2 linked regions of the Homo sapiens genome follow. The protein of the gene in region 2 interacts with the protein of the main gene of each other region in a pairwise test. Each region holds a gene or a part of one and is shown on either strand. Other genes may lie near its edges.

Region 1 (3,646 bases), on a different chromosome or scaffold from region 2:
TGAAATACAAACGGAGAGAGGCAGGATGAGGAGCACAAACCCCTCTGCCTTTGCTGGATGGGACACAACTACAGGTGCAGGAAGCTGACAGGCTGGAGGACAGGGTGGTGACAGACAAGCCAGTCTTCTGACGCCCAGACTTTCACAGGGAAGAATGGGGTCAAGGCAGTAGCTGAAAGGGAAAGTCAGGGGGAGGCAGCTGTAGCAGGACTGCTGGGCAGCACTGACTGTCCATTGAAGATGTGAAGTGAGAAGTTTAAAGTGAAACCGGCCGCCAAGGTGGTGTCACTCTTTCAAAACTGTTCAGTTGCCGGGTGCGGCTGGGTCAGCCACTGGATACAGTAGGCATTAAGGAGGTAGCAGGGCTCAAGCAGTGGGAGGTTCTGCTGCTCCTCCTCTGAAGCCATTACCAGAGCTCCAGTACTTCATTCAGTTTATTCATTCCTAGAATACAGACTGAACTTAAAGGGATGATGACAATTATTATTTTTTATTTCAGAGGCAGTCTTGCTCTGTCACCCAGGCCGGAGTGCAGTGGAGCAATCATGGCTCACTGCAGCTTCAAACTCCTGGCCTAAAGTGATCCTCTTGCTTTGGCCTCCCAAGTGTTGTGATTACAGGTGTTAGCCACTGTGTCTAGCCAATGAAGAATGTTATCCAGTAGCCAATAGCAGAAAGAACCACCATTTAAGCAAGAATTTATTTCCAGGACTATGTTTTTACTATAGATTAAAATTTAATATAACTTAATTCACATATAAAGACAACTCTGAAGACCATCTGGATATGATAATGGCCTGGGGTTAAGTGAAATAATTGAGGTCATGCTCAGGCCTGAGCAGATACCAACTTGCTCAAGCCTGAGAAATAGGACTTCTCTCTTTCACTCATCACTTCAAAATGCAGTGGCCTCCTGCAGAAGTTGCACTCAGCTGAGGAATGAGGCTTCAGTTCCAGCCCCACTTGCTTCCATGTGACTAGCAGATTCTCTGAGGAGAAACAGTTTTTAAATATTAAAGGGAGTAATATACACAAGAGAAATGAAAACATATGTCCACACAAAAACTTGTACACAAATGTTCATAGCAGCATTATTCATAATAGTTAACAAGAGAAACAACCAAATGTCCACCAATAGACGGATAAACAAAATGTGGTAAATCTGTACAATGGAAGGTTATTTGGTAACAGAAAGAAATGAAGTGCTGATGAATGCTACAGCATGGATGAGCCTTGCAGACATGATGCTGGAAGAAGGCAGACACAAAGGAGCACAGGCGGTATGATTCCACTTAGACACAAGGTCCAGAAAAGGCAAATCCATAGAGACAGAAAGAGCCGTGGTTGACAGGGGCTGGGGATGGGGAAAAGAGGAGTGACTCCTAATGGGTAGGGGCTTCTGAGGTGATGAAAATGTTCTAGAATCAGATAGAAGTGATGGTTGCATAACACTGGGAGTGTACTTAAAAATCATAGACTTGGATACTTTAAAAGGGTGAATTTTATGGTAAGTGAGCTATATCTCTACTGAGATAAGGCTTTTATAAAAATTTTAAGGCTTTTATAAAAATAAATAAAGAGAAAAATAAAACCCAGAGTTGGGCTTGATTTCACAGGCCTGTAGGGAAGAAGCTGCTCCAACACTGCCACGTGACAGTTTAAACCCAGCATTTCCAACAGAACAGAGAGCCTGTGAGGAAGCTGAGCCACGCTGGGCGGGCTTGGGAAGGCAATGTACCTTCGAGGCAGAGGTGACCTGTGGCTAATAGCCCCCTTCCATCTCTGCCTTTAGGTTGGACATGGGTGGAGCAGTATAGAACCACGGGGCAGTTGAAAATATTGAGCAATTCCTCTTATCAGAGGCGATTAGGTGTGGGGTTATTCAAGGATTATACAACATCATGGAGTAGAGGGCAGTGGTGAAGACAAATGTGAGGTGGACTCCGGAGGGACAGCGGGGACTCAAGCCTTCAGAGGCCTCTTCTCCCTGCAAGTCATTACTGTGCATCCTTCAGCCACGTAGACAAGGGGGCACTGGAAACACTGAGCGGATTCCCAGGCTCCCTCAGAGCTCCCAAAATGACTCTCCACCCTCTTGATGTGAATCAGACAATAAATACCTTTTAGGGTTTTGAACCATTTGAGGGCATGCTTAGTTACTTGGAAAAAGAAGAAACAGGCCGGGCACCAGGGCTCACACCTGTAATCCCAGCACTTTGGAAGGCTGAGGTGGGTGGATCACCTGAGGTCGGGAGTTCGAGACCAGCCTGACCAACATGGAGAAACCCCATCTCTACTAAAAATACAAAATCAGCCAGGCGTGGTGGCGCATGGCTGTAATCCCAGCTACTCAGGAAGCTGAGGCAGGAGAATCGCTTGAACCTGGGAGGCAGGGGTTGCGGTGAGCCGAGATTGTGCCATTGTACTCCAGCCTGGGCAACAAGAGCGAAACTCTTGTCTCAAAAAAAAAACTAAAAAAAGAAGAAGAAACAAATCTGAATGCCTCTGAAGGGCTTCAATTATAAACACTGCAAAGACAGCTTTATGCAACTCCTCAGTGAGGCACCAGCAGCTCCCCAGGTACTCACCAAGGAAGTAGTTCATCATCTGGGGTGTGTGGTGAGGGGTGGGGGCAATCCGTAGGAGCTCTTCTCCCCGGGGCACCGTAGGGTAATTGATTGCTTGCACGTAGATGTTATGTCTGCTCATTAGTTCATCACAGACTTCTGTGTTTTTAGCAGCATCTGCAACCTAAGTTCAATGAGAGCAGAAGGTAAGGTCACAACAGGAAGGACTACCTCTTAGCAGAGATCCTAACGAACGCAGTCCCCACAACGCTCAGGCTCAAGACCAGACTGTAGCAACACATGCAAGCTTGGGGCAGAGGGAAAGCGCTGCCCAAACACCTGTCATTTAAAAGAAGCCAGTGTTGTTTCGTGAACACCAGGGAACCAAAACCTTATTAAAAAGAAATACATTTTTAATCAGAAAACACTGGTTCTGTTCGTACCAGCAGACTCTCATACCCACGATGTATAATCTAGATTCAGTTATACTAGCTGTATTCATTACACTAATTCAACTGTGACATCAACAGTGCTACCATTTGTAGTGGGAAGGGCAAAACCTATTTTGAAATTTACTAAGTAGAAAGCCATACTTCAAAGCTGGCCAAGCTCAGGCTTCTGGAGCTTTCTAGATACAAGCTCTGTGTTTACCCTGTTAAGGTCAGTGCTCCGGAGAGGGAACTTCTGCCCCAGCCTGCTGGGTTCAAAGGCTTTCTTCTCTTGGTGAAGTCAGCCAATGGCGGAAACATGACAGAGGGTGGCTGGCTACAACCCCTGCCCTGGCAGTCACCCCGCTCAAGCCCAACTTCAGGAAGGTATGAAGCAGAACATCCGTACATCATGTGTAGAGGCACACCCCACGGCAAGTCCAATCAGAGACAGGCCATTACCCGCACAGGGATGATGTGGCTGGGGCAGTGGACAACAGGGAGGCCGGCATCCATTAGCATCTGTCTCATGAGTTTGACGTTGCGCTGGTGCTGGCGGCGAAGCACCCGTCCCTCAGCGCTCTTCAGGATCCGCACAGACTCCAGGGCTCCAGCCAGCAGCATGGGTGGCAGAGAGGTGGTGAAGATGAA
Region 2 (3,812 bases):
TGCCAGGACTCCATGCAGATTGGCCAAAGCCATTCATTACTCATGAGCCCTGGACCAGCTTCCCAGTAAATCAACCCATTCAAGGTTTGATTGTGTTTGGGAAAAAAAAAAAAAAGTAATTGACTTGTAACACACAGGACACCTTTCAGGGCAGAAAGTGTGCCAGAGATCTGGGCTTTGCGGCCGCAAATCAGCCAAGATGCAAGTTTGCAGCTGCTTCCCAGCGAGGCTCGAGGCCACCGCAGGCTACAAGCTGAATGCAGCCAGGCTTTCGTGCCTCTCTTTGCCCCAACTGGCAACCTCTTCACCGAGTTCTCAAGTTACCCCAGTGATGAGAAACTGTATTTCTAGGTGTGGACATTGAGGGGACTCTGGGACAGAGGCAAGAACATTAAGAATTCTACCTCTGAGCTGGACCTATGCTCAGCTAAGCAGCCACCCGGAGGGGCCATGGAGCTCAAGTTTAAGGCACCAAGTGAGCACCCAGGAGGACATGGGATTTCACAGCCACAGACACACTGGGTGGGCACACGGGTTCAGCGGAGCAGCTGAGGTTTCCCACAATTGCCCCCCAAAACCATCACCACAGAACACATACCCCTCCCCAAAAAAGGGCGTTGCTCCTCTTCCCCAATGAGGGTATTAAGCTATACTCATCACTTTCTTATTTTTTTATTTTTTTTATTTTTTTGAGACGGACTCCTGCTCTGTGGCCCAGGCTGGAGTGCAGTGGCACAATCTCGGCTCACTGCAACCTCCGCCTCCCGGGTTCAAGCGATTCTCCTGCCTCAGCCTCCTGAGTAGCTGGGACTACAAGCACATGCCACCACGCCCGGCTAATTTTTGTATTTTTAGTAGAGACGGGTTTCACCATGTTGGCCAGGCTGACATCAAACTCTTGACCTCAGGTGACCCACCCGCCTTGGCCTCCCAAAGTGCTGGAATTACAGGTATAAGCCACTGTGCCCAGCCTATTTGTTATTTTTTTGAGATAAGGTCTCCCTCTGTTGCCCAGGCTGGAGTGCGGTGGTGCGATCACTGCTCACTGCAGCCTCGACCTCCTGGGCTCAAGTGATCTTCCTGCCTTGGCCTCCCAAAATGCTGGGATTACAGGTGTGAGCCACCACACATGGGCCCCACTTTATATTTAGGATGGCAAACAACCAGTCAACAGGCGTGTTTTGTTTGGCCTGCACAGTACTTTAAAAATGTTAAATCTGCTGCCAAACTTCAAACAAACAAACAAACAAACAACAAAACAGGCTTTGCATAAGAATCCAGACTTCTGGCTACTCTTGAAAACATGACCTGGGCCCACATGCCCCAGGGAGCGACAGCTTGCCCCAGATGGGCTCTCTGGCCCCCCTCAGATGCCCTCACTCTTGACACCTGTAAGCACCAGGTGCAGAAATCCCCACAACCACCAGGCTGCAGCCCAACTTGCTGCAAAGCTGGCCCTGGGTGTGCCCCGCGCCTCCTGTCTTGGCGGCCCCGTCACCTTACCCTGACTTCAACACCTTTCCCTTCCCATTACACTTGAGCTTCTGGGAGGAAAGGAAAAAATGAGGTCCCAGCAGTAGGAATATAGCCCCAACTGCTCCTCCCCAGCACGGACTCCTATATAAACTACAAGAATCCATCCCAGATTCTCCAGGCTAAGGCCAATTTCGAATGTTCTCCTGTGTCCAGGTCCAAGGGTTAGCCAACAAGACCATCTTAGGGTTACCCACCACTCAAGGGGACCCTGCTGACTCCCTCCAGGAAAGCTCTACTCCCTGTCCTTGTACTCACTCCTCATGGCTAGTCCCTGTCACCTCAAGAGGCCTGGCCCATGGCTGGCCTCACCCTAGCTAGGCCCAGGTCTGCCTGACCTGCCATGTGCCCAGTAGGAATGTCTCCATGATGAAACCTCTGGAGGAGCTGAGGTGAGGGAGGCCTCAGGCCCAAACCTCTACCTCTCCTGGGACAGACGGGAGCTCTTCAGGCACAGACCTTTCTCAGTCCTCACAGCAAGTCATTGAGGGAACCCTCAGACCAGGTGCTAAGGGGTCCTGGGCCTAAGCCTACTTTTTTTGTTTGTTTTTTGAGACAAGGTCTCACCCTGTCACCCAGGCTAGAGTACAGTGGCACAATCGTAGCTCACTGCAGCCTCAACCTCCTGGGCTCAAGTGATCCTCCAGGCTTAGCCTCCTGAGTAGCTGGGATTACAGACGAGGGTCACCATGCCTGTCTAATTTTTTTCTTTTTTTTTTTTTTTTTTTGAGACGGAGTCTCGCTCTGTCGCCCAGGCTGGAGTACAGTGGTGCAATCTTGGCTCACTGCAAGCTCTGCCTCGTGGGTTCATGCCATTCTCCTGCCTCATCCTCCCAAGTAGGTGGGACTATAGGCGCCTGCCACCACTCCCGGCTAATTTTTTGTATTTTTAGTAGAGATGGGGTTTCACTGTTAGCCAGGATGGTCTCGATCTCCTGACCTCGTGATCCTCCCTCCTCGGCCTCCTAAAGTGCTGGGATTACAGGTGTGAGCCAACGTGCCCGGCCTTTTCTCTTTTCTTTCTTCTTTTTTTTTTTTTTTTTTTTTTGAGATGGAGTCTTGCTCTGTTGCTCAGGCTGGAGTGCAGTGGCGCGATCTCGGCTTACTGCAACCTGCGCCTCCCAGGTTCAAGCAATTTTCCTGCCTCAGCCTTAAGAGTAGCTGGGATTACAGGCGTGTACCACCACATCCAGCTAATTTTTTGTATTTTTAGTAGAGACAGGGTTTCACCATGTTGGCCAGGCTGGTTTCCAACTCCTGACTTCAGGTGACCTGCCTGCCTCGGCCTCCCAAAGTGCTGGGATTACAGGCATGAGCCACTGCGTCCAGACTAATTTTTCTTTTTTCTTCTTCTTCTTTTTTTTTTTTGAGATGGAGTCTCGCTCTGTTGCCCAGGCTGGAGTGCGGTGGCGCAATCTCCGCTCACTGCAAGCTCCACCTCCTGGGTTCCCGCCATTCTCCTGCCTCAGCCTCCCAAGTAGCTGGGACTACAGGCGCCCGCCACCACGCCTGGCTAATTTTTTTGTATTTTTTTAGTAGAGACGGGGTTTCACCATGTTTGCCAGGATGGTCTTGATCTCCTGACCTCGTGATCCGCCTGCCCGGCCTCCCAGAGTGCTGAAATTACAGGCGTGAGCCACCGCGCCCGGCTCTTTTTTTTCTTTTTCTTTTTTTTTGGTTTGAGACCCAGGCTGGTCTCAAACTCCTGGGCTCAAGCAATCCTCCTGTCTCAGCCTCCCAAAGCTCTGGGATTACAGGCGTGAGCCACCGCAGCGGGCCTCCAAGCTTACGCTGCAGCCCAAGCTTTCGTCTCCTACCATCGCCCTGGGGTCTTCTCTCCTCCACCAGCACAGGGCCCCCAAACCCTGGCCCAGTTTCCCAAAAAGAGGCCCACCATTTTGTTTTCCCTTTAGCCATCTTCTGGTCACCTCACCTCCACTGGCCTGCCTTGCTGAAACACCAGAAAAAGAGAACAGGAGGCAGCCTGCCCCAAATGAGAGGGAGGCCACAGCTTTTTCCGGGGGTGGGGGAAGCATCAGGGGACAGTGGGTGGGTCGGGGGGGTAATTTTAGGGGTCACTAGGGCTGAGGAGAAACCCACCCAAGGCTCATGGGGCCAAATGATCTGCCAAACACTTCGGCTTCCCTCTGGGTAAAATACAGGGTGCCCTGTTAAATTTGCATTTCAGATAAATTAGATAATGTTTTAGTATAAGTGTGTCCCAAATATTGCATGAGACATACTCAAAAACATTTATTTTTAAAAAAATCTTTCATTGT

What was found.
Region 1: the proteins of BCL7A (region 2) and ALAS1 interact in binary tests that used the Homo sapiens proteins (3 or more experiments, as listed by UniProt).

What each region holds. Positions count from the first base shown.
Region 1 is NC_000003.12:52,211,363-52,215,008, reverse strand, and holds the end of ALAS1 (5-aminolevulinate synthase, non-specific, mitochondrial isoform 1 precursor), read right to left. Parts: coding exon 3,458-3,646; intron 2,752-3,457; coding exon 2,589-2,751; intron 1,001-2,588; coding exon of another isoform or gene 990-1,000; coding exon 829-989; 3' UTR 682-828; downstream 1-681.
Region 2 is NC_000012.12:122,024,716-122,028,527, reverse strand, and holds part of BCL7A (B-cell CLL/lymphoma 7 protein family member A), read right to left. Parts: intron 1-3,812.